Linked DNA regions of Homo sapiens: regions 1 and 2 are each linked to region 3. The links come from fine-mapping of genetic effects on gene expression. A gene starts in region 3. Each other region holds a variant in brackets. All regions are shown on one strand. Distances are from middle to middle. Region 1 overlaps GNB1 (G protein subunit beta 1). Region 2 overlaps GNB1 (G protein subunit beta 1). Region 3 holds the start of GNB1 (G protein subunit beta 1).

The links. PIP is the estimated chance that this variant, and not a neighbour inherited with it, causes the effect.
Region 1: its variant is fine-mapped to the expression of GNB1 in whole blood (TOPMed, PIP above 0.99).
Region 2: its variant is fine-mapped to the expression of GNB1 in lung (TOPMed, PIP above 0.99).

What each region holds. Positions count from the first base shown.
Region 1 is chr1:1,779,695-1,789,796 of GRCh38, forward strand. GNB1 (G protein subunit beta 1) reads right to left here. Exons shown (of 12, transcript NM_002074.5): 10 at 9,359-9,575; 11 at 7,628-7,743; 12 at 5,592-7,359. The coding sequence ends at 7,637. It also overlaps a transcript of NADK not described here. Among named protein-coding and RNA genes, the nearest start is that of NADK, 6.3 kb to the left of the region's middle. RefSeq lists enhancers at 552-721, 732-791, 802-871, 882-981, 3,291-3,460 and a silencer at 3,076-3,370. The variant C/G (reference allele first, on the strand shown) is at 7,302.
Region 2 is chr1:1,829,757-1,839,858 of GRCh38, forward strand. GNB1 (G protein subunit beta 1) reads right to left here. Exons shown (of 12, transcript NM_002074.5): 2 at 9,434-9,482. Among named protein-coding and RNA genes, the nearest start is that of GNB1, 56 kb to the right of the region's middle. The variant A/G (reference allele first, on the strand shown) is at 5,661.
Region 3 is chr1:1,883,395-1,893,034 of GRCh38, forward strand. GNB1 (G protein subunit beta 1) reads right to left here and starts at 7,693. Exons shown (of 12, transcript NM_002074.5): 1 at 7,426-7,693. It overlaps GNB1-DT (GNB1 divergent transcript), which reads left to right and starts at 7,786. Exons shown (of 2, transcript NR_168264.1): 1 at 7,786-7,989; 2 at 8,506-9,332. RefSeq lists an enhancer at 5,206-5,705 and silencers at 7,008-7,197, 7,758-7,947, 8,068-8,167, 8,228-8,477.

The sequences.
Region 1 (10,102 bases), 100 kb before region 3:
AGATGAGGTTTTACCATTTTGCCCAGGCTGGGTCTCAAACTTCACCCGCCTCGGCCTCCCAAAGTACTAGGATTATAGGCGTAAGCCACTGCACCTGGCCCAGCCATTGTTTTCTGAGGTTCAGTCCCTGTCTATACTTTCTGTGTGATCACCTGGCCCAGGGTCGGTGTGGACCTGAGTCCTCTGCAGCCCTTCCCCACACCCGCATACCTGCTCTCTGGTCAGGACTCCTGGGACTTGAATCCAGAGACACGGAACACGGCCTGGCCAAGTCTTCCTGAAAAACACAGCTCTTCAGTTCAGGACCACAGTGAAGTACAGGGCACCAAGGGTGACTGGAAAGGGAAGCAAGGATCATGAGAACTTGGGGGATTTCTTAAGCTCTGTAACTTCTCCCGGGGTTATTTTGCAAACCCAACTGTTTCAAAGTGACCACCAGCCACACCCACAGAAGCGGCCTTGAGCTGCCCAGTTCTTTTTCTTTGGCGGGGGGAGAGGGGGCGGATAAGATCATTAACATAATAATGCGTGAGCTGAGTTTTTGCATATGATCATTAGCATAATAATGCTTGATCTAGATGGCGCACCCACAAGCCAGGCACTGAGCCAGGCCTCAGTAGAATCTTCTAGAGTGGAGGCAGTCAACTGCTTCTGCAGAGGCAACCAGTGACTGTCGTGGGCCCCAGGTCACACAGCAGGTGCCCTTCGCGTGTCCCGCTGTGTAGGGAGCTCCAGCAGCTGCCCCGTCTGTGGCATGAAAACCCTTTGTCTACCCTGGGCCTGGGCACTGCCTGCAGGAGAGCTTCCCTGTTTCAGAGATGAGAAAACAAAACCAGGGCTGTGGTTTCCTTCAGCTGACAGGTTGTGCAATTTCTCAGGGCAGGCCCCGGATATGACCTTGAAGATTCAGGGGCCAAGATCTCACACCCACACCTCACCCCAGGCCTGGCCAGCAATAACTAAGACCAAAGCTGGGAAGGCTCCTTAGGGCACCCAGAATGGTCCAAGAGGCAGCTTTGCTTGGGCTGAGACCAAAGGGAAGAGATGTTCCCGCAGCAGGAACAGAAGGGTCCAGGGCTATCATGGGGGCTTCTGCCAGATGGTGCACAGGAAGAGGCTCTGCCTTCAAGGGATTGGGGGTCAGGAAAGGCCCCCTCCTGCCTGACCAGGCCCCAGGGATGGGGCAGCAGTGGGTGGCATCCCCTGCCCTGACCTTCCTCAGCCCCAGGGCTGCCATTGCTCAAGGTGGCAGTGGACTCTTCACATAATTTCGCATTGTTTTTTGTATTCTTTAAGGATGGCTCCCATGTTGTTTACTTCAGAACCCCCAAAACCTGGACCCATCCTCTTCTGGGGGTCAGCAGGGATGGGGAGGGTGGAGGGAGAAGGGGGAACGGAGGCCATGAGGGATGGAGCAGGATGGGGTGCACTGGGGTACAGGTTGCTCCTGGGGAGGCTGAGGAGAGAGGGAAGTTGGCTTCAGGTGGCCTGGCTCCAGTAAACTGGGTGAACGAAGTCTGCCCAGAACCCACAAGGGTAAGTGGCCTGGAGCCTGGGGAAAGGATGACTGGGAAGGACTGAGGCTCCCAGTGAAGGACATCAGTATGGCAGGCTATCTGGTCATCTCATCCAGCCTCCAGCCAGCACCCGGCACAGGCCCTGCCCAGGCTGAAAGCCAGGATAGGGGCGTCTGCAGGGGCCAGTGTCTGGATCTGCTCACATGACAGTCTTCTGTTTGGCCTGGTTTGGGGCGAGGGGCAACCTCTTTCCCAGGATGCCAGCCATGTGCAGGGCATACTGAGGATTCAACAGTGGAAACCAAAGTCCATCAGGTGTTCACCTTCTAGTGGGGCAGACGGGCAAGAAGCAGAATTGGTGGGGGCAGGCAGGGGTTGGGGTACAGTTTTGACCAAGGTACCCAGGGACAAGTGTTTCTCTCTCAGGCAGAGGCAGCAGCAAGGACCAGGACCCTGAAGTGGTGAGAGCCTAGAGTGGGCGGGGATCATCAACAGTAACCACCTGGCAGGACTGGGACTCCCTGTGTCCTCACAAGATCCTTACCAAGCAGCCTAGTATAAGACGAAGTCTCGCTCTGTAGCTCAGGCTGGAGTGTAGTGGCATGATCTCAGCTCACTGCAAGCTCCGCCTCCCGGGTTCAAGCCATTCTCCTGCCTCAGCCTCCAGAGCTGGAGTTACAGGCGCACACCACTGAACCCGGCTCATTTTTTGTATTTTTAGCAGAGACGGGGTTTCATCATGTTGGCCAGGCTGGTCTTGAACTCCTGATCTCAGGTAATCCATCCACCTCGGCCTCCCAAAGTGCTGGGATTACAGGCGTGAGCCACAGCGCCCGGCCACAGCCTGGTACGTTTATTGTCCACATTTTTCACGCGGGGGCCAGAGGCACAGAGAGGCCAAGTAACTTGCTCAAGGTCACCCAGCGAGGAAAGGGAGCTGGGGGGTGGGGGTAGGGGACAGGGCGAGGCCAGAGAGTAGTGGGAGGGGCCGAGGCGGCCTTTCCCGGGAGCGCTCGGTTCCCGGCCGGCCCTTCTATTGGCCCCAGTCACTCAGGCTCCCAGGTCCGGCTCGGGGGGGAGCGGGGGGCCGCGCCAGGCCGCTGAAGTGTCCCCGTTTCGCGTGGGCAGAGCGCGCCTCCCCACGCATCCTGCTGAGGGCCAGCCTCTGCTAGGTGCGTGACACGGAGGGGACAGAACGGAAACCTTGTCCTGCTCAAGTGTGGACGTGCGTGCCACGTGCTAGAGTAAAATTGAGGTGGGGAACCTCCATCCCTGGGACATGGAGCACAGGGGCGACCCCGCGCCGCTTGGTCAAAGGAGGTCCGAGGCCCTGCAGGAACAGCCCACAGCCGGAGCGAGCTGCAGGTCACTCCACTGCCTGTGTCCACCTGCGACAGGTGCGCCCGCGCAAGCGGGGCGGAGCCAGGTGACCCGGACACAGGAAGCGCGCCAGGGGCCCCCACACCGCGGAGCTGCTGGCGACAAAGGGCGCTGCTCCTGCATAGGCCAGGCTAATGCAATCTACAAACTAGATTTCTGTGCCTACAGTTTGAAAATGATTGCAGTTCACTCAGCCAGTGTGGAATTATCCTCCTCTTTCCACACTGCCTTAGTCAGTGCCGCTGTCCAAGTGCACGTTGTTGGCGCCCGTTTTCATTTCCTGTTTTGCTAAGAAAGTGGGGCAGTGGCCTCCATGCCCGCCAAGGGACAGGCAGGCCGCCCCAGGGAGGGGTCCCCCTCAGCTCTGGCTCTTCCAGGCCAAAGCCAAGGGGAAGGGGCACCAGAGGGTCCCAGGTCCCACATGCCAGCTCCCTCAGTCTGCGGGGTGCCAGGCTAGGACACAGAAGCCAACAGGAATCCCCAAAGGGAGGAAGTGGAGTCGGGGGTGTGGCAGCCGTGCTGAGATGCTCGGCCTTTATTTACTCTGGGCAGGGACCAAGATAGGCCACTGCAGGCCGGCACCCTGCCTCCCGGCTGCTGGAGCCCCTCCCTCCCAGGAACTGCCAGCCAGGAAAGAGCCTCAGGTACTCTCTGCATTTAATTTTTAATTTTTTTTTTCTTTTGACGCCTCCAAGACAAGTTCAACTCTCTAGTGATTTTAAGTGGGGTTTTTGTAAGACAGCTGGCAGGGTTAGGGCTTGTGAAGAACTTGCATGTCTATGAAGAACTGATTTATTTCAGGGAAAAGTGGGGGATGACGAAGCCAGGCGAGCCCACCCCGTTCAGCCTGCCAATCACACCCACTTCAGCAGCCTAAAACAGCACCAGGTCACCCCACCAGGGAGACAACGCCATAGTGTCACTTGCAGTGCTGGCAGATGGGCACCCTTGGTGGCGTCAGAAACACACCCAGCACCTTGCCTGGAGCAGGGCGGCTGGGCCCTGCTCCGTGAATCCCAAGTGCCCTATGGGAGCCTCTCCGGCCAGGGACTGCCAGCCTAGAGGAGGGGCTGCTGGGTTCTCTGGTGCCCAGGGGAGGAGGGGGCCTACAGGTACTTTCTGCTGAGAGCCTTCTTCACTTACTAGGAAAAAGTTTGGCTGGGTGCGGTGGCTCGGCCTGTAATCCCAGCACTTTGGGAGGCTGAGGAGGGCGGATGACAAGGTCAGGAGATGGAGACCATCCTGGCTAAGATGGTGAAACCCCGTCTCTACTAAAAATACAAAAATTAGCCGGGTGTGGTGGTGGGCACCTGTAGACCCAGCTACTCGGAAGGTTGAGCCAGGAGAATGGCGTGAACCCAGGAGGCAGAGCTTGCAGTGAGCCGAGATCGCGCCACTGCACTCCAGCCTGGGCAAGAGCGAGACTCCATCTCAAAAAACAACAACAAATTAGCCGGGCATCTGGGCCAGGCGCGGTGGCTCACACCTGTAACCCCAGCACTTTGGGAGGCTGATGTGGGTGGATCACAAGGTCAGGAGATCGAGACCATCCTGGCAAACATGGTGAAACCCTGTCTCTACTAAAAATACAAAAAATTAGCTGGGCATGGTAGCAGGCGCCTGTAATCCCAGCTACTTAGGAGGCTGAGGCAGGAGAATCGCTTGAACCTGGGAGGTGGAGGTTGCAGTGAGCTGAGATCGCACCATTGCACTCCAGCCTGGGCAAAAAAGAGCGAAACTCCGTCTCAAAAAAAAAAAAAAAAAAAAATTAGCGGGGCGTCGTGGTACGTGCCTGTAATCCCAGCTACTTGGGAGGCTGAGGCAGGAGAATCACTTGAACCCAGAAGGCAGAAGTTGCAGTGAGCTGAGATAGCGCCACTGCACTCCAGCCTGGGCCACAGAGCGAGACTCCACATCAAGGGAGAAAAAAAAAAAAAGTTCCAGCTGCTGGAGCCATGGGAATTAAAAAATTACTTTTTTTTTTTTTTTGAGAGGCAGTCTTGCTCTCTCACCCAGGCTGGAGTGCAGTGGTGCGATCTTGGCTCACTGCAAACTCCGCCTTCCCGGGTTCATGCCATTCTCCTGCCTCAGCCTCCAGAGTAGCTGTGATTACAGGCGTGTGCCACCATGCCCAGCTAATTTTGTATTGCCTATTTAAGATTTTAAAAAATCACCAGTTTGGAAAGCAGGGAAGTGGATGGTTCTGGAGCCTAGGAGCGGCTATTTGGGACACACACAGCCATGGTTTTCCACACTACCATGGCCAGTGCTCATTTTTTTCTTACTAGATGCAGTTCTTTATATTCAGACCAAGAGGAACACTCAGTTCAGTCCCAAGGAAAGCTAGTCTCTGGAGTAACATCCTCAGACATTCTAAGGGAGGGAAATGGCAGAGGAGAAAGGCAAGGCAGCCGCCTGTGGAGACTCCCACGGTGCTGTGGGCAAGGCCTATGCCTGGGGAGGGGTCTGGGCGATGGCAGGTGGACCTCCCTGCTCTGCTGGCCTGTGAGGTGGAGCTTCCCAGGAACCCCTCCGAGGAGCCAATGCGCCACTCATGGATTCTGTGACGTGGTGGCGGCCATGGCACCGCCTGGCATGAGCAGGCCCGTCAGACCTCACAGCAACAGGGACAGCTTAGGGAAGCGGGCGCGTTGCAAACTGGAAGTGGACCCGTAAATAATCACCACACCAAAGTCCCTCATGTCAAACTGCTTTATTACATCTTAAATAACAGTACAGTTTAATATAGTATCTATCTTGCATCCAGCTTCCTTGCAGTACACTGACTTTAAAATTAAATACAAAAGGTGGAAAGGGGTAAGGGTGCAGAGAGCTCTACAGAGTTGTTGGACGGAAAGAGAAAGAAGGGGTTTCATTTGTATTCTCTTTGCCAGATCCAGGCCTACCGCAAGGTCACAGCACAGTTTTGTATAGAATGTTGCAGAAAACAGGATGGAGAAGCCACTACTGCTGCTATGAAGGAGTGCGGGGGGCGGGGCGGGGGGTCCCACAGAACCTGCTTTCCAAACGCTGCTGCTGAACACTGGCCTTGAAATGAACACCAGGACAATCTGTGTGTGATGGGAATGAGCCACCTCAGATGTGGAGGGCCCTGAAGAATCCATATAGGAGGGCAGGCTCTTCACTCCCTCTCCCTCCCTCTCTCTCCCTCCCCACCCTCAGAATCCAACAGCAGTCGTTTGCAACAGAACTTTTTTTTTTTTAAAGAAATAAAGAAAACAGTGACTTATCCCGCTACCCAAGCGTGTAGAGCCGCGCGCTGTACTGCTTCCGATATGTGCCACAGAGCAGCAACGAGAAGTGGACAGAGCCGCAATGGTTACAACTGTAAGAGGTTATTTCTTAAAAGAAAAAGAACACCTAAGGACTGAGTCCCATATGCACTTTTGAGCATTTCTACAGCATGCGATTCTAAGAGTAAACCCACCCAATATGGCAAACAATCAAAATTTTTAAAATTTAACTTAGAAAGTCTGAGATCATTATTTTCAAAACATTGATTTGTACATTGTTTCATACACAAATAATTGACTGACTATCCAAGCACAGGACAGGCATCTCTCTTGAAAACAGAGGTTCCTCCTAGTTGGGGGTGGGGTAGTGTTAGGCTATTATAAACTTCCCTCCAACTTCACAAGGAAACCCAAAGTGAGATTAAAAACTCAACTGAGAAGATAGACAGGATGGGTCAGGAGGAACATGGTGCTGGATCTGAGCTCACTTTTCAGCAAAGGTGAAGGATTCTCTGATCACGCATTTGAGACCGTCCCCGCATGTGCTTGGCCCCATGGCTTCTGAACATGTTCTTTTCTATGCCACGTTTGTGTGCAACAATGATCTGTGACATCAGACAGAAAATTAAAAACCAGGGACTGAATTTACATCATTGACAACATCAGAGAGGCTGCCCTAGACTCTCTGGTTTTGATTAACTGTTGAACACAAAGGAATACATTTTAAAAAGGAAATATGAATGCTTCCAAAATCTTGCTACAAACATGACTGAAATTTGGACACGATGACCAGATGAACAAAGCCCTCAGCATGTTTTGCATGAATGCCACAAAACAGGGTCACTGGTCTAAAATTCAAATACACTGGTGGAAAAGTGTGTCTGTCTGACAATTACACTCAAGTTTACCTTCTGGTTAACATTTTTATTATATATTTCCTTTTAAAATTCATTCAAGACAAAAAAGAAAACAAAGACGATGGCCCCGGAAGGAATGCACAATTTGTTTTAGTTTACAGCACAGAGATCTTTCTCTCAATGGGAATTGTGCTCTTGGTTTCAGCAATAAGTGAAGGAAAAAAGATCTTGCCCTTTTGAAGTTCTGAGGGGAGGTGTAGGGTGTCCACGTTAGTACGGTTGGATAGGATATG[C/G]TCTCATGGTAACGCGTCCAAGTTGGAATGGTCTTCCAGTCTCCATGGCATCCACATGCTGTTTTAAACAGAGTTTAAAGAAATGTGAAAAGAGGCAGAGAATCTAAGTGCAGACGCACAGCCAGGTCACTGCTCTTCCCATCACTGCATGAGTGTCTGCAGCTGAGGGCACGTGACTTCAGCTTTCTGTAAACGTTTCCCACAACACAATTCCAAATCAATGCTACATCAACATTTATCTAGAAACCGTTAATGACAACTTCAAATGTTCTATGAGAAACACGCACAGTTCTCCTCAGAGAAGGGCATTTGGGCTGCTGCATTACCTACTGGCGTTAGTTCCAGATCTTGAGGAAGCTATCCCAGGACCCTGTCGCCACAGCCATGCCATCGTCAGTCACGCCCAGGCAGCTGACGCGGTTGTCATGCCCAGCCAAGACACCTGGGAGCAAACAACAGCAGAATCACACCAAAGCCCAGAGGCATCGATCTCACCTGTGTGCCATGTTGTGACGAGGACGGATGGTGCATCTCTCATGGGACAAGACCCAGAGTCTCCCACGGCCAGGAAGGGAGGGAAAGTTGCATCCACGTGGGGAATTAACCTGCAGCATATGGCCAGCCTTGTTAAAATTCAAAGACACGCACACACACGCAATCGATAAATCCAGAGCCCCTGGCATTGACTTCTCAGCACTCACTTATAAAACTTAAAAAAAGAAGCAAAGGCCACTATCAAAAAAATCAAAACTATCATCAGACGCAGTGGCTTAGGCCTGTAATCCCAGCACGTTGGAAGGCCGAGGCAGGCAGATCATGAGGTCAGGACTTTGAGACCAGCCTGGCCAATATGGTGAAACCCCATTTCTACTAAAAATACAAAAACCAGCAGGGCGTGGTGGTGCGGGCCGTAGTCCCAGCTACTCAGGAGGCTAGGGTAGGAGAATCATTGGAACCCAGGAGGTGGAGCTTGCAGTGAGCCAAGATCGTGCCAGTGCTCTCCAGCCTGGGCGACAGAGCGAGACTCCATCTCAAAAAAAAAAAAAAAAAATCAAAACCGCCCCAATCTCAAAGCAATCTGTAACACAGGAGCTTAGAGGCATGAGCCGTTTTTCCTTTGTCTGTGATCCCTAGAGCCCAGCACAAGGCACAGAACACAGGAGTAGCGATGGTGGCTGAGACCACTGGCACTGCACTGTCACTGTCATGTGATGAGGGGGCCTTCTGTCAACACTCCCAATAACCTTGGCTTGGATCATCACCAGCCAGAAGCTCCACTTCCTCCCAGGGGGATCCGAAGGCCCATTTCAGCCACCCTCCTCCACCTCCTGCAGCCACCACACAGCTGAGTACAGGGGCCGGCGTGTGCTCTGCCAAGGCCTGGGCTGGCTTCCACCGCCCTTCAACAGCACTGTGACTGTGAGACTTGGCTGGAAATGGCTCCACTCTGGTCCCCCCAGGCTGGGGAGAAAAAGAAATGTGTTTAACCAGGAGGTGGGAGTGGCACCCATCCGGAAGCAGGAAGCCCCGGTAAGGGCCAAGACCTGGAGCCATGCTCCCTTCTGTCCTCCCAGGTACTGAGACAAATGAATCTAAGTCTGTAAGTGTCAACAGTTCTCAAATTCAAATGCCCAAATGACCATTTTTAGTAAGGAAGTCTCATCTTTTGTACACCTGGCAATAACACGCTTGCCTTTGATATGTTAACTGTAACGGCACCCAGAGGTGTCCCTGCATGGAACTCCTCCCCCTGAAGCAGAGTTCAGAGGGGAAAGCACGGGGCTGGGCCCTGGAGCCTGCACAGCTGACCCTCTCCTGCCCACTGACTCTCCCCAGAGCCCTCCCCGACGCATGTGGGAAGATCTGCTGGTACTCCTCGGAGTCCACTTGCCTGGAGGGTCAGAGCTGGGCCATCAGTTTGCGACTGTCACTCCTGCTACGCCATGCCACAGTCCCACCGATACTAAAACACTGCAGCTTATGCAACCACTCTGTGTTTGCTCTAAAGATACCACGTAAATGTCCACAAGACACAGAAAGGCCCCATGGCCACGTACCTGCCCGGTCGGCTTTGAGTGCATCCCAGACGTTGCAGTTGAAGTCGTCGTACCCAGCAAGGAGGAGGCGCCCGCTCTTGGAGAAGGAGACAGAGGTGATCCCGCAGATGATGTTGTCATGGGAGTAAGTCATGAGCTCCTGGTCAGCACGAAGGTCAAACAGCCTGCAGGTGGCGTCGTCTGAGCCAGTGGCAAATGCATTGCCATTTGGAAAGAACTGGAAAGAGAAAGCAAATCAAGACATCATGTAAACGCTCAGAAAGAAACATTGGGAATATGGATTGCTCAATGGTAGGGCTGCAGAGAACACAGCAGGCAAAGACCAGCAAGACTGTGCTCTGGTAAGAACAGAGGGCTGGGCCGGGTGCGGTGGCTCATGCCTGTAATCCCAGCACTTTGGGAGGCTGACGCGGGTGGATCACCTGAGATGGGGAGTTTGAGACCAGCCTGACCAACATAGAGAAACCCCATCTATACTAAAAATACAAAATTAGCTGGGCGTGGCGGCGTGCGCCTGTAATCCCAGCTACTCAAGAGGCTGAAGCAGGAGAACTGCTTGAAACCGGGAGGCGGCGGAGGCTGCGGTGAGCCAAGATTGCACCATTGCACCCCAGCCTGGGCAACAAGAGCAAAACTCCGTCTCAAAAAAAAAAAAAAAAGGGTGGGGGGATGGGGGAGGAACTACAGGGGACTGGGATGGGAGGGGATTTGCACTGGGGAGGCACACAAACACTGTGATCTTGG
Region 2 (10,102 bases), 53 kb before region 3:
AGATGGAGTTTTGCTCTTGTTGCTGAGACTAGAGTGCAGTGGCACAGTGCTGGCTCACTGCAACCTCCGCCTCCCGATTTCAAGCGATTCTTTTGCCTCAGCCTCCCGAGTAGCTGGGACTACAGGCACATGCCACCACAACCGGCTAATTTTTTGTATTTTTAGTAGAGACAGGGTTTCATCATGTTGGCCAGGCTGGTCTTGAACTCCTGACCTCAGGTGATCCGCCCACCTCGGCCTCCCAAAGTGCTGGGATTACAGGTGTGAGCCACTGCGCCCGGCCCGCCATCTTTTTTCTACACACACCAGATGTTATGGCGTTGTTTTTGGAGAAAGAGAAACAGGTTAGCAGCTTTTATTCTTCTCATTATTCTTCAAATATAGTTTGCTTACTAACCCCCCTACACACCAACACACGCATACAAAGTTAACAGAGGCTAATCTGGGGTCCTAGAACAAAGAAACATTTTTTTCTTTATACTTTTCAGTTTCAATAAAATAATATTACATTTTTTTTTTTTTGAGATGGAGTCTTGCTCCGTCGCCCAGGCTGGAGTGCAGTGGCGCGATCTCAGCTCACTGCAAGCTCCACCTCCCGGGTTCACGCCACTCTCCTGCCTCAGCCTCTCCGAGTAGCTGGGACTACAGGCGCCCGCCACCACGCCCAGCTAATTTTTTATATTTTTAGTAGGGACGGGGTTTCACCGTGGTCTCCATCTCCTGACCTCGTGATCCGCCCGCCTCAGCCTCCCGAAGTGCTGGGATTACAAGAGTGAGCCACCGCGCCCAGCCTTAATGTTACATTTTTTAAAAAAAATTTCTGTGAGGGTCTCACACTCTTGCCCAGGGTGGAGTGAGTGGCATGATCATAGCTCACTGCAGTTCAAGCCATCCTTCTACCTTAGCCTCCAGAGTAGCCAGGACTACAAGCAGACTCCACCCATCACACCCAGCTATTTTTGAAATTTTTGGTAGAGACGAGGCCTTGCTATGTTGCCCGGGCTGGTCTCAAACTCTTGGCTTCAAGTGATCCTCCTGCCAAGGCCTCCCAAAGCGCTAGACTCTAATCTATTGCATGAGCCACCACACCCAGCCTAAAGTTAACTTTTTAAAGTTACCTGATGCAGCCAGGTGCAATGGCTCAAGCCTATAATCCCAGCACTTTGAGAGGCTGAGGCAGGTGGATCACCTGAGGTTAGGAGTTCGAGACCAGCCTGGCCAACGTGGTGAAACTCCGTTTCTACTAAAAAATACAAAAATTAGCCAGGTGTGGTGATGCGTGCCTGTAATCCCACATACTCGGGAGGCTTAGGTGGGAGAACGGCTTGAACCTGGGAGGCGGAGGCTGCAGTGAGCAGAGATCGTGCCACTGCACTCCAGCCTGGGTGACAGAATGAGGCTCCATCTCAAAAAAAAAGTTACTTGATGCAATTCGCTGGGTATCGTGGAACGTGCCTGTAGTCCTACCTACTTGGGAGGCTGAGGTGGGAGGATCGCTTGAGTCCAGGAGTTCAAGGCTGCAGTGAGCTATGATAGCACCACTGCACTCCAATCTGGGCAACAGAGCAAGATCCTGTCTCTAAATAGTTACTGGAATAACTGTAACATATTGCTAAGAACAATAAGGAAGACAGTAATAATTTGGGAAAACGCTTACTATATACTAAGTCAAAAATAATATAAATTTGCATATAGTTATTTTATTTGAGACTGAGTCTAGCTCTGAGGCCCAGGCTGGATGGAGTGCAATGGCGCGATCTCGGCTCACTGCAACCTCCACCTCCTGAGTTCAAGCGATTCTCCTTCCTCAGCTTCCCAAGTAGCTGGGATTACAGGCATGCACCACCACACCTGGCTAATTTTTGTATTTTTAGTAGAGACAGGGTTTCGCCATGTTGGCCAGGCTGGTCTTGAACTCCTGACCTCAAGTCATCTGCCTGCCTCAGCCTCCCAAAGTACTGGGATTACACGCACCCGGTCACATGTAGTAATTGTAGCTGCTTTATTATAATTAAAATAGGTCTGGGCGCGGTGGCTCATGCCTGTAGTCCCAGCACTTTGGGAGGCTGAGGCTGGCAGATGGCTTGAGCTCAGGAGTTCAAGACCAGGCTGGGCAACAACATGGCAAAAACCTGGTCTCTACTAAAAATGCAAAAATTAGCTGGCGCAGTGGCACACGCCTGTAGTCCCAGCTACTTGGGAGGCTGAAGTGGGAGAATCCACTTGAGCCTGGGAAATTGAGGCTACAGTGAGCCATGACTGTTCCACTACACTCTAGCCTGAGCACATGGAGTGAGACCTTGTCTCAAAAAAAAAAAAAAAAGAAAAGAAAAAAGAAAAATATACTCACTTTAAAGAAAGATAGAATAGCATTTTTATTATAACTATTAGTCACGTTTTTCTACTAAACGTAATATTGATGCAGCTTCCTTTGAAAATTAAAGAATAAATGTAAATTTTAAAAGTCTTACTCACATTTAATTGCTCTTGCTTTTCTCTTCGCTTCCCTCAGTCCCCCAGACCTTCCAGAACACCCACCACCAGGTTTCCCTGGCCTGGGCTCCTCTCCTCCGGTGCCGACGTCACGGCTAAGCTCTGGCTGTGCTGACTCCAAGAGCCCGCCCGTCTAATCCACTAAGACAGGCTCTGCTAAGGCCTCATGTCTAGTCTTCCTGATGACCCATATCTGCCATTGGCTTTTATTCAGAATCTGAGTTTTGGAAATCCTTTTGAGAGAGATTTGAATAACTTAAAAGCAAGCAGGTGAAGGGATCTGCCCCTACTTTAGAACAACATCTTTGTGAGTCAAGTGTTAGCAAGATTTTTAAAGTCAGAATATTTCATATTTGCAATGCAATGTGCTCCGTGTAGTGCCTCTACCCTTCATGGCAATGCAGCAGCCCAGGCCTCTCATCCAGACCCCTGAGAGTCTAGGAGGGGCACCTCAGCGGTGCCCTCAGGACCCCATATTACACAGTCACCAATAACAACATTCAGGCTGCAAGTTTGCCAATGACAAAATAGGGTACAGATATTGAAAAATAATTTCAAGTTCTGGTTCTGCAACATACAAAGAATAATGCTTTCACTAAATTGTTTTTTACTCTAATCTGCTTAATTCAAAATGGGAATGGTGTTATCTATATCACAGAGCTAAAATGAAAATTAAATCAGACAACCAATCTGAAAGTGCTCTGTCAGTCTCACAGTGATTAAACTATGACGTGTACCTTTGACTAACAATCTCAAGGACAACAGGCACCATGCTCACCAAAGTGCACACATGTGGTCCCACCACCAAGCAGCAACAGGGCAGTCCTGAGTCACCTGGTCACCAGCTAGCCGCACACCCCTGAGCCTCCTGTGCAGCACTGGATGGCTGCATCTCTGGATGGTTTGGACAACTTCCGAAGTCCAAACCGGCCCCAGTGTCTTACACCGGGGCAGGAAATTTGCTAACTTGACCAAACACACAAGGATCACAGCTCACCTCCAAGACGAAGCAGCATTTTGAAAGAGAGGAGTTTGCATGAGGAATTTAAACCAATTTCACTCACTTTTCCATTTTTCTTTCATTCCCAAGTCCAGGTCAATCTCCAAAACTAAGACTGTGGGAATTCAAAGGGCAACGGAAAAAGTCCTCAGGCCCTGCTTCCCTTACGCACCGCTCCTAACAATACTGTGAGGAATAAGGGGAGCAGGGGACCACCGCAACTGATAAAGGACACGACCACTAACGCAGCTGCAGAGCAACGCATGCGCAGACCCTCCCTCCAACACAACAGGCACTGTAGAGCCTCAGCATGGTGCTGAGCAGCATGAACCAGGCTGGATTCTAGTTTGAGGGAGACAGAAGACAAACAGGTAAATCACGTGGAGTTACAGAGGCTGGGAGCGTACACAGTCACTGCGAACGGGTGAAGTGTGCCAACGAGGGCAGGGAGGATGCTGCTTTGCATGGCTGTTAGACATGACCTTGCTAATGGGCCAACATTTGAGCAGCAGGCAGATGGGCAAAAATAACACAACTGTTCTTGTTTGAGGTGCTATTTTTTGCAATGGTAACAATTTTAAAAATCTTACCTTAGGATTTTGCCTGTGCCTATAAAGTAATCTTAACGAAAAAGTGAATGTGACCAAAGCTCTAGAACTAGAAGACAGGGAAACATGTTCAATGACCCCACAGAGGCAACGGTACTACACAATGGCCTGGGAAACACTCCAGGACAGACGACCAGGCAGGTCGGTTAGTCTGTCTTTAACAAATAAACTTCAAGGGAAAAAGGAGAGAAAGCAAACAATGGAGGGAGGATTTCTGGACTAAGTGAAGAGACTCCCCAGAATCATCTCCTTCATGTCCCAGTCACAAGTGAGCTCACTCACCCATTAGACGCTGGCAACTGGGGGAAGGGCAGGAACTATGGTGTGCGGTCACAAAGCCCTCAGAAGGCAATTCTCCAGGGAGGGGTCTAACAGCCAGGGGTGAGCCAGTGAGGCACAGCTGCTAAGAGCTTACCTCTGACCCTTGGAACTCTGAAATCCCAGAAGTGGCTACTGACTCTCCCGAAGCCTTATTATTTCTCATGCATCACAAAAAACATCTGATCTCCCATTCTGCTCTCCCTTTTCTAACCCTGTTAGCCTATGGCCTCTTTTTGCTTTTAGGGCGGAGCACAAAATCTAGCACATACTAGGACAATTGGAAATCATTCAATAGATACACATCTTCAAACATGTTGAGGCCAAATTGGAAGTCCCACTTTGATCATTTCAAAGCCAAACTTTATATGTAACTGATGGAGTCTCATGAAATGAATGGCATCCATCCAGAAGACGGGTCTAACAGGGAAAGGTGGTGAGAAACTAACAATCATGCAGCGCACACAACAGAGGAGGCTAAACTCCAAGCACTTTTTTTTTTTTTTTTTTTGAGATGGAGTCTCACTCTGTTGCCCAGGCTGGAGTGCAGTGGTGCGATCTCGGCTCAGTGCAACCTCCGCCTCCCGGGTTCATGCCATTCTCCTGCCTCAGCCTCCCAAGTAGCCAGGACTACAGGCGCCTGCCACTATGCCCTGCTAATTTTTTAAATTTTTATTAGAGACGGGGTTTCACCGTGTTAGCCAGGATGGTCTTGATCTCCTGACTTCATGATCCGCCCACCTCAGCCTCCCAAAGTGCTGGGATTACAGGCGTGAGCCACTGCACCCGGCCTCCAAGCACCTTTTATAAGGGGCCTGGAAATCCTTAGGTTTAGGGAAAGACTGCTGTGTGCCATGCCATCTGCACTCCAGTATATAAAAATAATCTTTGTTTTTACATTTACTGCTGCAAACTACAATGAATACTATGTGCTTTCCCAACAGCAAATGGGCGGTGGGGGTTAGAATTCTGTTCCTAGAAAAACTTCCGTGTTTTTATTGGCATTTGCAGGTCCAGCCCACTTAAGCAGGACCAATGATGTCTGACAGCCCTGGCTGGAAGCAGAGTGACGCTTCATGGCAGGAAAGTTGGAAGCCCCAGGTTCTAACCCAGACTCTATCTCTTCTCACCAGGTGGCCTCCAGTAGGTTTCCTAACTTCTCTCTGCCTACATTTTTTTGTCTGAAAGTGGGGACAGTAATAGTCCCCACAGCTCATGCTATGACAATTCCATTAGAATCC[A/G]TGCAAGCCCCTTAGAACCATGACTGACACAGTAAATGCTTACTAAATATGACTTGCTATGAAAGCAGGTGTAAAACTGTTGCCCTGAAAGTTTTAAGTAATGTCCAGAAAACTACCTCCTGCCTCACCTGCCACACTTTCCATCCAGTCAGTGCAGTAGGCCCTTTTGCAGAAATCAAAAATATATGTAGCAGTGGCAACCAGTGTAACAGTGGAGTTAATCAGATAGATGTGATACTTTGAAATCTGTGCATGTTGTTACATGTACAAGTCTTTATGAGAACATCTGCTTTCACTTCTCTTGGGCAGATTCCTAGCGGTGGAATGGCTGGATCATACTACAGGTGTGTGTTGAACATTCCAAGAAAATGCCAGGCCAGGTGCAGTGACTCATGACTATAATCTGAGCACTTTCCGAGGCAAGGCAGGAGGATCACTTGAGCCCAGGAATTGAAGACCAGCCTGGGCAACATACTGAGACCCCGTCTTACAAGAATTAAAAAAAGAAAAAAAAAAAAAAAAAAAAAGCCAGACATGGTAGTGCGTGCCTATAGTCCCAACTACTTAGGAAGCTGAGGCCAGAGGATCACTTGAGCCCAGGAGGTCATGGATGCAGTCAGCTATGATCACACCATTGTACTCCAGTCTAAGAGACAGAGTGAGACCCTATTTCAAAAAAACAAAAAACAAACTCAAAAAACAAAAAAAACCAACTCTTTTCAAAATGGTTATGCTGGGTCACATTCCCAACATCCTATAAGCAATGTGGAGAGTCCCGGCTCCTCACGCCCAACAACGCTGGGTGGGTGTCACAGCCATTCTAATGGGGGCGTGGGCTGTAGTCTCCATCTGCATCTCGCTGACTGCTGAGCTTCTGAGGCACTCAATTGCTGTCTATACAGTTTCTGGTAAAGTGTCTGTTCAAGTCACTTGCCTCTTTTTTATTGGGTTACCTGTTTTCTTAATATTGCTTTTTTTTTTTTTTTTTTTTTTGACACAGGGTCTCGCTCTGTTGTCCAGGCTGGAGTACAGTGGTGTGATCGTGACTCACTGCAGCCTCAACATCCCGGGCTCAAGTGATTCTCCCACCTCAGCCTCCCAAGTAGCTGGTACTACAGACACACAACACGATGCCTGGCTAAATTTTTTTTTTGGAGACAGTCTCGCTTTATCACCCAGGCTGGAGTGCAGTTGCACAACCTGGACTCACTGCAACCTCCACCTCCCAGGTTCAAGTGATTCTTGTGTCTCAGTCTCCCAAATGGCCGGGATTATAGGCATAAGCCACTACACCTAGCTAATTTTTGTATTTTTAGTAGAGATGGGGTTTCCCCATGTTGGCCAGGTTGTTCTCGAACTCCCAACCTCAGGTGATCCGCCTGCCTGGGCCTCCCAAAGTGCTGGGATTACAGGTGTGAGCCACCGTGCCCGACTGCTAACTTTTTTTTTTTTTTTTTTTTGAAGAGACAGGGGTCTCACTTTATTGCCCAGGATGGTATCGAACAACTGGCTTCAAGCAATCCTCCTCCCAAAGTGCTGGGATTACAGGTGTTAGCCATAGTACCTAGCCAAAATTGAGTTTTGAGAGTTCTTACCTATTCTGGATACAAGTCATCTAAAAGACATTTGCTAATATTTTCTGCCAGACTATGGTTTGTCTTTCGTTCTCTGTTTTTTCTAAGGAGCAGAAGTTTTAAATTTTGAACAAATTCAATTTATAAATGTTTTCTTTTACGCATTCTATCTTTGATCTCACATCTAAAAACTGTTTGCTTAATTCAAAATCTCATTTTTTCTAATTTTACGTTTTATATTTAGGTATATGATCCATTGAGTTAATTTTTTTTTTTTTTTTTGAGACGGAGTCTCACTCTGTCACCCAGGCTGGAGTGCAGTAGCGTGATCTTGGCTCACTGCAAGCTCCGCCTCCTGGGTTCATGCCATTCTCCTGCCTTGGCCTCCTGAGTAGCTGGGACTTCAGGTGCCCATCACCACGCCTGGCTAATTTTTTGTATTTTCAGTAGAGACGGGGTTTCATCGTGTTAGCCAGGATGGTCTCGATCTCTTGACCTCGTGATCCACCCTCCTTGGCCTCCCAAAGTGCTGGGATTACAGGCGTGAGCCACCATGCCTGGCCTTTTTGTTTTTGTTTTTGTTTTTTTGACACGGAGTCTCACTCTGTCACCAGGCTGGAGCACAACGGTGCAATCTCAGCTCACTGCAACCTCTGCCTCCTGGGTTCAAGCGATTCCCCTGCCTCAACCTCCTGAGTAGCTGGACTACAGGGGCGTGCCACCACACGTGGCTAAATCTTTTCCTTTGTATTTTCGTAGAGACGGGGTTTCACCATGTTGGCCAGGATGGTCTCGATCTCCAGACCTGATGATCTGCCCACCTTGGCCTCCCAAAATGCTGGGATTACAGGTGAGCCACCTTGCCTGGCCTGAGTTAATTTCTGTACATGATGTCAAGTTCTCCTTTTGCGTAAGAATATCCAATTGACTAACCAGGCGTGGTGGCTCACGCCTGTAATCCCACAGCTTTGGGAGGCCAAGGCGGGTGGATCACCTGAGGTCAGGAGTTCGAGACCAGCCTGACCAACATGGTGAAACCCCGTCTCTACTAAAAATACAAAAATTAGCTGGGTGTGGTGGTGAGCGCCTGTAATCCCAGCTAATTGGGAGGCTGAGACAGGAGAATGGCTTGAACCTGGGAGGGGGAGGTTGCAGAGAGCTGAGATTGCACCACTGCACTTCGGCCTGGGCAACAGAGCAAGACTCTGTCTCAAAAGAAAAAAAAGAATATCCAATTGTTCCAGCCCCTAATTGCTATTCAATTTAATTTTGCTTTTTAATTTAAAATTATTTCAAACTTCAAAGAGTTGCAAGAATAATACAAAGAAACCATGTACCCTCCTCACCCAGACTCACTCACTACGAACATGGCTTCATTATTCCCACTTTATTCAAACAAAAAGGTTTTTGTTTTGTTTTGTTTTCCTGAATCATGTTCACCTTACTTTTTTTTCTTTTCTTTTTTTTTTTTTGAGACGGAGTCTCGCTCTGTCCCACAGGCTGGAGTGCAGTGGTATGATCTTGGCTCACTGCAAGCTCCGCCTCCTGGGTTCACATCATTCTCCTGACTCAGCCTCCAGAGTAGCTGGGACTACAGGCGCCCACCACCGCACCCGGCTAATTTTTTGTATTTTTAGTAGAGACAGGGTTTCACCGTGTTAGCCAGGATGGTCTCGATCTCCTGACCTCGTGATCCACCCAACCTGACCTCCCAAAGTGCTGGGATTACAGGCATCAGCCACCGCACCCGGCCATATATTGGTATTTCAACTAAGATCTGATTTGAAAAAAGGGCTCTCCTGCTTTCTAACGAAAAAAACTAGCGATGTACCACTCTGATTCAGAAGGTAAATCCTCATCACTGGGACCCTAAACCTTCTTGCTCAACACTAAATGGAAGCTTTTTTTGAGGATCAAATTGTTTTGAAAACCAACTTTGGCTTAAAAGAGATAGAAAAAAACTGTAACAAAAACCAGGGTATTGACCAGGCATGCTGGCGTATGTCTATAGCCTCAGCTACTCAGGATGCTGAGGTGAGAGAACCCCTTGACCCCAGGAGTTAGAATCCAGTCTGAGCAACATGGCAAAACACTGTCTCTTTAAAAAACCAACCCACCAGCTATTTATAAAAACAAACTCTGAAGAAATTTATATATTGTCTTTCTAAAACTGATGAGGATCAAATATATCAAAATTACCTTAATTCAGAAGGGCTTCTGGTCTGGTCTCCAATACATGTAAATTTGTCTGAAACAAACAGAAAAGGCTGTATTTGTATTGCACTCAGGTTGTGAATAAAATATTCTATTTTGCTAGTAGCTATATTTTATGCAACGACACATAAATTTGACCCTTCCCTATTACTATTTCTCCCCCAAAATTGCTTTATTTAGCAGTACTGTCATATTTTGTTTTTCAGCATGGGAACAAAATAAGAAATCAGATCTCAACTTCTTTAAGAATCCTTAGAAATGCCCCAGGGAAAATACCTTGAATTAAACTGAAAAGTATGGGCACAGAGGTTAGAATCCTATCACTAGAAAAATTACAGTAACAATTTAAAAACTAATGCAGGCCGGGCCCAGTGGCTAACCCCTGCAATCCCAGCACTTTGGGAAGCTGAGGCAGGCAAATCACCTGAGGTCAGGAATTGGAGACCAGCATGGTCAACATGGTGAAACCCCATCTCCACTAAAAATACAAAAAAAAAAAGTTAGCCAGGCATGGTGTCACAAGCCTGTAATCCCGGTTACTCAGGAGGCTTAGACAGGAGAATCGCTTAAATCCGGGAGGTGGAGGTTGCAGTGAACCGAGATCATTCCACTGCATTCCAGCCTAGGTGACAGAGCAAGAATCTGTCTCAAAAC
Region 3 (9,640 bases):
TATGCATGTTCCACACCCTGAATTAATATTCTTCTGGAACCATGGAGAAAAAAAGAAAAATCTCAGTAAACTGTCATCTTATAACATTTGTTAACCTTGCCATAAAAGAAATTTTTACAAAGCAAGGCCATCAGCAACAGAAATAGCTAATCCTTGCACTGAGCTCTGTTATCAGTGCCCACATCAGGACTCATTTAATCCTCACAATGACCCCATGAAGGAGGCTCTAGGAGCCTGTTTCACAGATAAGGACAGACACAGAAGTCCTAACACTGCAGGTGGCCTAAATTAAGGCAGGCTCAGGGAGGACAGAAAGCTCCTGTGGAGTGGAAGGGTAGAAGTTGAACTGATCTTGATTTTCAGTGCGAATAAAAGTCCTAACACTGCAAATCAGCCAGTGAGGCAACAGAGCTGAGCTGGGCTCTAACTCAGACAGTGCCAATCCTTTTGAAAACTACTGAATTTCTCTCACTCCCTAGATTTTAGGAATTATTTTAAAATTCCTATGAGAAATTTTCTGAAACCTATTGTAGACTCTTTTGACATGCTCATCTAATTATAAAGTGTCCGGACTTTTTTTTTTTTTTTTTGACCGAGTTTCACTCTTGTTGCCCAGGCTGCAGTACAATGGCACAATCTCGGCTCACCGCAACCTCCGCCTCCCAGGTTCAAGCGATTCTCTTGCCTCTGCCTCCCGAGTAGCTGAGATTACAGGCATGTGCCACCATGCCCGACTAATTTTTTTTTTTTTTTTGAGATGGAGTTTCCTTCTTGTTGCCCAGGCTGGAGTGCAATGGCACGATCTCGGCTCACTGCAACCTCAGCCTCCCGAGTAGCTGGAATTACAGGCATGCATCACCATGCCTGGGTAATTTTTTGTATTTTTAGTAGAGATGGGGTTTCTCCATGTTGGCCAGGCTGATCCACCCTCCTCGGCCTCCCAAAGTGCTGGAATTACAGGCGTGAGCCACCGCGTCTGGGCTAATTTTGTATTTTCAGTAGAGACAGGGTTTCTCCATGTTGGTCAGGCTGGTCTTGAACTCCCAACCTCAGGTGATCCGCTCACCTTGGCCTCCCAAAGTGTTGGGTTTACAGGCATGAGCCACCACACCCAGCCCAGAATTTTTTAAGCTTTATTAACTACAACACTCGGCAGAAGTTGAGTGTCTGTAATCAACATAGGGAATATATTTTCTAAGTGCTACAGGACTGCACACAGACATGCATGGAGACATGATTACCCACCAGTAAACAAGAATACATTCCACTGATGCCCTTAGTATTCCCATTCTTTTTTTTTTTTTGAGAGACGGAGTCTTGCTCTGTCGCCCAGGCTGGAGTGCAGTGGCGCGATCTCCACTCACTGCGAGGTCTGCCTCCCGGGTTCACACCATTCTCCTGCCTCAGCCTCCCAAGTAGCTGGGACTACAGGTGCCTGCCACCACGCCCGGCTAATTTTTTTGTATTTTTAGCAGAGACAGGGTTTCACTGTGTTAGCCAGGTTGGTCTCGATCTCCTGACATCGTGATCTGCCCGCCTGGGCCTCCCAAAGTGCTGGGATTACAGGCATGAGCCACCGTGCCCGGCCAGTATTCCAATTCTAACAGGTGAATGAATTAATACATAAAGTCCTCTCTTGATATAATGCATTAGTAAGTTTGGAGCAATGAATTATTAAATCATAAAAATATTTTATCTATGGCAAAATAGGTTCAACAGAATAAACTTAAAAATTAAGCTGGGCACGGTGGCTCACACCTGTAATCCCAGCACTTTGGGAGGCGGAGGCGGGCGGATCACTTGAGGTCAGCAGTTTGAGACCAGCCTGGCCAACATGGTGAAACCCCATCTCTACTAAAACTACAAAAATTAGCCAGGCATGGTGGCGGGCACCTGTAATCTCAGCTACTTGGGAGGCTGAGGCAGGAGAATCACTTGAACCCGGGAGGCAGAAGTTGCAGTGAGCCAGGACAGCGCCATTGCACTCCAGCCTGGGCAACAGGAAGGAAACTCCATCTCAAAAAAAAAAGAAAGAAAAAAGGAATTACCTTAGATAATCTTAATCTGGTCTTTTAAATCAGTAAGCTTTTAAAAAATGGGTCTTTCTCAGAATTCTAATTTAAGAAGACATAAATAAGGAAATACTTCCACTTAATCTTTTTTTTTTTTTTTTTTTTTGTGAAACGGAGTCTCGCTCAGTCACCCAGGCTGGAGTGCAGTAGCACGATCTCGGCTCACTGCAAGCTCCGCCTCCCGGGTTCACGCCATTCTCCTGCCTCAGCCTCCCAAGTAGCTGGGACTACAGGCGCCCGCCACCACACCCAGCTAATTTTTTTGGTATTTTTAGTAGCAATGGGGTTTCACCGTGTTAGCCAGGATGGTCTCAATCTCCTGACCTCGTGATCCGCCCACGTCGGCCTCCCAAAGTGCTGGGATTACAGGCGTGAGCCACCGTGCCCGGCCCACTTAATCTTAAAAAAAAAAAAAAGCAAGCAAGCAACATTGCTCTATAAAACAGAAAGCTTTTCTACCACTGAAAGCCAGGAGTAATTTCCACTGATTACCATGGCACCCAATGGTAGGCACTGACACAAGAACAAGAGGCTAAAAGGTTTAAAAAAGCTTTCAGCATTCCGGCAGGGCACGGTGGCTCACGCCTGTAATCCTAGAACTTTGGGAGGCTCAGACAGGCAGATCACCGGAGGTCAGGAGTTCAAGACCAGCCTGGCCAACATGGTGAAACCCCATCTCTACTAAAATAAAATTTTAAAAAATTATCCGGGCATGACGGCGGGTGCCTGTAATCCCAGCTACTCGGGAGGCTGAGACTGGAGAATCACTTGAACCCGTGAGATGGTGGTTGCAGTGAGCCGAGATTGCGCCACTGCACTCCAGACTGGGTGGCTGAGTGGGACTCTGTCTCACAAAAAAAGCTTTCAGCATTCCACTAATCCACTAGCAAACTCAAATGTCTATAGATTGTCTCTATTTCTTCAATCAAAGTTCTAGAACAAAATGCATAGCTTTGAAATAGGTGGTGCTCTGTCCCTCTCCCAGAGCAGCTGATGTGATGTTGCATTTCTCTCTCTTCATACACACTCACTCCCATATACGTTGGCCCTGCTTTTTCTTTCAGTAATGTTGAACACTGCAGTTTCATAAATTTCTGATAGTTTCCATTTTAAATTTATTTTATCTCCTCATTCTGTGTTCCTAAACCAAACACTTAACTGAATTGCCTACTTCATAATCTCTCCAACCACTCTTAACAAATGCAAACCTGAAATCAGAATGTAAACCAGTTTAAAATTTTTTTTATTTTTATTTTTTGAGACGGAGTCTCGCTGTGTCGCCCAGGCTGGAGTGCAGTGGCCGATCTTGGCTCACTGCAAGCTCCCCCTCCCGGGTTCCTGCCATTCTCCTGCCTCAGCCTCCTGAGTAGCTGGGATTACAGGTGCCCAGCACCACGCCCAGCTAATTTTTTGTAGAGAAGTAATTTTAGTAGAGAAGGGGTTTCACCGTGTTAGCCAGGGTGGTCTCGATCTCCTGACCTCATGATCCGCCTGACTCGGCCTCCCAAAGTGCTGGGATTACAGGTGTGAGCCACCACGCCCGGTCAAACCAGTTTAAAATTTTATAAAAATTTTTGTTCCATGTCTTGTGAGACTTACACTAAATAGGGGTTTCAAAATAACATGGCCTGCCATATGGTCAAGCCAGATTTAAAAATTGAGAATATCTATTACCAATCCACTAATGCTAAAGCCAAAGTCACAGACAGTAAGAATGTAATCCAATTTAGAGACCAACATGAGCCAAATCTTTCGGGCAGAGAAAAACAACGACAAAACTATAATAAATGCCAACACTGCACTTCTAAAATAATACCAATGTTATTCATTAAAGTATTAGCTACAAAAAGTCAACTGATGGTAGATGAAGTCTAGAGATGCCCTGAAGACCTTTTTCATCCTTTTATCAAAGCTGTTTTTAGCTACAAAGCTACAACTTTTCCAGTGGACCAACACACACATAAAATAAACCAAAAGACCCAGAAATTTTTAGCAAAGCAAAGGGAAGAGAACAAAGCTCTGGTACTTTTGCAGGATAGTACAACATCTCCTTTGAGAAATAAATTAACTTTTCAAATTCTGTTTCTCAAGTGATCAACATAAATCTACCTAGATGATACTAGCTTTGAAATCAAAGTCATTGGGCATCAAAAGGATTTACAGAGGTTTTTACTCTTTTGAGACACAGTCTCACTCTGTCGCCCAGTGGCACAATCTCGGCTCACCGCAACCCCTGCCTCCCGGGTTCAAGCGATTCCCGTGCCTAAACCTCCCGAGTAGCTGGGATTACAGGCGCCCACCACCACGCCGGCTAATTTTAATATTTTTAGTAGATACGAGGTTTCGCTATGTTGGCCAGACTGGTCTCAAACTCCCAGCCTCATGTGATCCGCCCGCCTCCACCTCCCAAAGTGCTGGGATTACAGGCGTGAGCCACCACACCCAGTGGGTTTTACTCTTAAAAACAAACAATAAAAAAACCACACACTATTCTGCAGTCTCTTGAATCTTCTAAGATTAAAATTAAATCTGAGAAAATTTACTTCAACTTTCCCACCCACCAAAAAAACAGAATTAACTGAAGATATCAAAGAAAAAACAATATTTTAAAGGTATCACTGAAGAGCACTGTCAGTACTTGTCTGATGAGATAACTATGGTTCTGTCATAAATTCAGATTACGCGAGAGAAATAGCTTTTGGCCAGTGGATGTGCTCTTTTGAGAAAGTCAATTCTGAGCTGAAATTTCATGTTGGAACAGTTTCCTCTATAAGACTCATCTTGAAAGGTTCCCGCAGAAGATAAAATGTCATCCTCACACTGGGCCTGGGCAGTGCGCACTTAACTGGGAGGGGGCACAGGCACCTCAGAACTTAACTGGTTTTCCAAACTCTCAATCTCAAAAAAAAAAAAAAAGGCGGGCGGGGGGAGCACTTTCAGTGTTGATGAAACCAAATGCTCGTAACCTGGGACCACCGCCCAACACCTGCAGTCCAGCCTTCCCCCAGGGTTGACAGCATCAGCCTCTGGACCCTGCAGTTGCAGTTCATTTCTGCGCAGCTCTAATCGTTAGAAAGTTCTGCCTTACCGGCTGGGCGCGGTGGCTCACGCTCGTAATCCCAGCACTTTGGCAGATCAAGGCGGGTGAATCACCTGAGGTCTGGAGTTGGAGACCAGCTTGGCCAACATGGTGAAACCCTATCTCTACTAAAAATACAAAAAATTAGCCGGGTGTGGTGGTGGTAGCTGTAATCCCAGCTACTCGGGAGGCTGAGGCAAGAGAATCACTTGAACCCGGGGGCGCGGAGGTTGCAATGAGCCGAGATCGCGCCACTGCACTCCAGCCTGGGCAACAAGAGCGAAACTCCATCTCAAAAAGTAAAGAAAGTTCTGCCTTAGCATAAACCAAGACAAAACCCACCATTCAGTCCTACCCTGGGGAGGCTCTCAGACCTGTCTCCATGTCAGTGGCACCACCTCCATCCCCAGCCTCGAACCCAGCGTTAGCAAAGAAGGAACCGCCTATCCACTTTCTTGATATACATACCTTCCCAAAGAATCCAGAATAGACTATGCATGTCAATAGCATGAAAATTAAAACCTTACTTTCAATAAAGAGCTCCTCCCTCTCCCAAAAGACTATCACTTCAGATTAGAAAATAACTTATGCAAAAACCTTATCAATAACAATGCTTGCTCCAAAGACCTTATTCAGTATGCAGTTCACTGAAACTTTCCACAAAACTAATACGTCCATTTGCTAATCATGAAAAATAATCTTCATATTTTCTTAATTAATAATCTCACCAGCAACTGCTTAATCACCTAATACTATTTGAGACTAATGTTATCAGATAGATAGCAACATGAAAATACAATGAACCAATGCTCCCCAAAAGAAAACCATAGGTTACCATTTCTACACTATTTACCCATAAGTCCAGTACTGTACACCCTAACTGTAAATGTACACCAACTCCCTTTTCAAAACACAAATTTTAACATCGGCGTTTTCCTTCAGGAGCCCATTTCACAATCTTAAGAAAAAGCTTCCATGAAGACAGGCTGGGCACGGTGGCTAAGGCCGCTAATCCCAGCACTTTGGGAGGCTGAGGCGGGAGGATCGCTTGAGCCCCAGAGTTCGAGACCAGCCTGGTTAACAGGATCTCTTTTACAAAGAGATCCCATCTCTTAAAAAAAAAAAAAAAAAAGGCTTCCATGAAGATGAATTAAGCAAACAAAAGCTGATACTGCTTCTGCATGCTAACCATGTAATTTAACGGACACAAGAAATGTTAAAATATCATTTGAATCAACTATCGATTCACAAGAAAAAATATAGCAGGTTCTTAAAAGTCAAAAGCCTCAGCCGACAGCCCTGTGGAATTTTCAACAGATCTCCCCACTCCCCACCCCCACCCCGCTTCCAGCCGAAAAGCCGATCCAGGCAAGAGGAAGACACCCAGCCTTTGTGCTATTTCCTGTCCTCTCCCCCACCTTCGGGCCTTCGGAATATCGCAAACCGGGCCCCGAAACTCGGCGCGGCGGCGGCCGCCCCACAAAGGCAGCGGTGGGAGCGCCATCTTGGCGCGGCCACCGGGCCCATTCATTCGCGGGGCCGGGCCGGGGTCCGCGCAACCCTCGAGTCGACACGCGCGGGGCGCCAGCGCCGGACAGACCCGGGCCTCGGCAGGAGAAGGGCGAGGCCACAGCGCGACTGCCTCAGCGGCTCGACACAGCGAAAAGGGCCGAAACCGTTATTTTCCCATTTCCCGACGCCGCGCCCGGCTTCCGCTTTAAATCCCTACTCCGACCGCGGCGCGCGGCCCGGCTTCCCCATTTCATTGTTCCCCTTCCCCACGCTCGCGCCCCGCGGCCGCCCGGCCCTCAAAGTCACCCCGATAGGCGGCCCGCGCGGGGGCTCCGGCCGCCGACACCGCCCCGCCTGCAGGCCCGCCCGGCCTTTGTTCTCGCGCCGCGGGCCCGAGAGCCACGTCCGGCTCCCCACGCAGGGCCCGGCCCCGCCCGACCCGCGCCCCCGGGGCCCCGGCCGCCGCCACGGGAAGCGCCCGCGGCGCACACAACCCCGCACCCCGGTGCCGAAACTCGGCCCCCAGCCTTGGGCCTGGGACCCCGGCTCCTCTCCCTAGACCCCGCCCTCGACCCCGACCCTGCACCCCGAACCTCGGACCCCAGCCCCCGGCCCCCCCTTCGGACGCCGCCCGCCGCACCCGGGCGGGGCAGGAAGACGCGGCCCCGACCGGCGGGTGGGGTGGGGGCGGGGCGGGCGCCCCCAGGGCGGGCGGGTGGACGAACAGGACCCGGGTCCGGGGCTGGGGGCTGCCGCGCTCACCTCAGCGCCCTCGTCGCGGCCTGACGCGCCCACACCGCCGCCTCGGCCGCCGCTCGGCAGGTCGTCGCGCTCGGGCCGCGCTGCGCGCTCCGCGGGCGCTGCGGGCAGGTGCGCGCCGGCGAGGCTCGGTCCAGTCCCGCCGCGGCGGCTGCTCCACTCCCGGCCCCGCTCCCCACTCGCCGCCCGCTCCCGCTCCCGCCGCCGCCGCCGCCGCCTCCGTCCGCCCCTCAGACGCCTCCAGCCATCGGGATGGGCGCGGCGGGCCCCTGCCCGCAGCCTCGGAAAACCCCACGCGCTCGCGTCACCACGCACGCCGCGCGTCGCGCGCGCTCGCCAGGCCCGACGGGCACGCGCACGCCTGTGCGCGTCCAAACCGCATCGGGCCCCGAGCGCGTGTCCGAGCGGCTTAAAGGGGCCGTGCTGCTGCCTTCGGGTACCGCTGCCCCGGGAGACCCCCGGCGGCCCGGCCCTGCGGGGACCGGGCGGGATGGGGACCGGGGCAGTGGACCCTCGGAGTTGGGATGGGGCGGGGGGAACGCGGGCGTGGAGCCCTCCGGGGACAGGGTAAGGTTGGGTAACCGTGGGCGGGGGCTCCTCCAGGGGCGGGGGTGGGGTAACGGCGGGCGGGGGGCACTCAAGCGACAGGGCAGGGGCGGGAAGGCCGCGGGCGGGGGCGGTCCCTCCGGGGACGGGGCGGGTGGGGGCACCGCGGGCGAGATCGCTTCCTGCAGAGGAGGCAACAGGCCCCGCTAGCAGGTCAGGGTCCCGGGCAGGCGCAGGTGCCCCCCGGCCTCTCAAGCAGGGACTGCGGCGAGCTCAGACGCGGCTGACGGGCAGAGACTCGCGCTTGGGCTCAGTGCGTGTGAAGTGGGCCTCGGGCTGCGGAGGAGGGCAGCACCCCGTGGCTCCTCGCGCTGCTGCGAGCAGGGCCGCCTGGCAGGGGCGGGGGCCGGTGGGCGGGAGTGTCGGGGTAAGGCCGCGGACTCCTCCCATGCCGCTGAGCAGTGGACAGCGGGGACTGGAGACCTCCAGGTGAGGAAGGGGAACGAAGTCAAGAAGGCCACATGTCCTGGCTTCCAGGCTTGGTGTCCTCAGAAGCCTCCAGAACGTCCATGGAACCCGCCCCTGCGCCCACCGCCTCCTGCTGTCTTTCCAGCTGAGTTCCGGCTGCCCCTCACCCTCGGCTTCTTCACTCTGCCTCTCCCCAGCCAGCGCCCTGCTCCCCGGTCCTCAACCACCACCTTCCACCTGCCTGGGCCTTCATCGCCTCCGAGCTCCCCTTCCACACCAAACCTGGCGTCCGTTTTCCTCCAGGCCTGCACCAGCACAGCTGAAGGGGAGAGAGACCCAACCTCATCCACTGGGCCTCCCCTCAACCAGGGCCACAACCTCAAGGGGCCATGCCACCTCCAACACCTATTTCCCACCTTCTACTCTCTCCACACCCTGGGACACCACCCGCCTCTCTCAGCTGACGTTTTCCTTCTTGTTTTGTGTGCATGGTGCTTGTGTGAGAAAGTGGACACACAGTAAGTGCGGCTTCCAGATGCGTCCGCCACCTGCCCTCCGTGCCACGCGCTTCCCCCTACCTAGGGGAGCCTCCACCAGACAGGGAACCCACGCCTTGCCACCCTTCTCTCTCCCTCCCACTTCACCTGTCCGCATCATTTCTGGAGCCCTTTCTTTCTGGCACGAGATGCTCCAGGGCCCTGTTGTATTCTCCCTGCCCCAGCCTGAACCCAGCTATTTCTGCTGCAGCCTGGTTCATTGTGGGAGAATGTCATGCAGAGCCCGGGATCTGGCTCCGGATGTGCTCATTGCTACTGGGGTGTCATTGCAGCTGGCGGAGCAAGGGAACACATCTATGTACATGCCCACACGCATATGTATACACACAGTTTCATGGGCGTGTTTGTCTGTTTTTCTTGGGCACCACGTGTTTACTCTGATGCCAGGCCAACACTACAGGGCTCAACCTGTTCGGAATGAGGGGCCTCCTGCTTTGGGAGTGAGGAACCTGGCTCTGATTATCTCCTGTGTAACCAGTCTCTCATCCTTGCTTCCACCCCACCATATGCTACCCGCTCCTCACCCTGCGTGGCCTCTGACCTCCGCTGGACCACCGAGGCCCCGCCCCCACAGGGGCGCCTGCCTGCCTAGCACAGTTGAGCAAGGAGTGAATTCCCAGTGAAATTTTTTTAATTTTTATTTTATT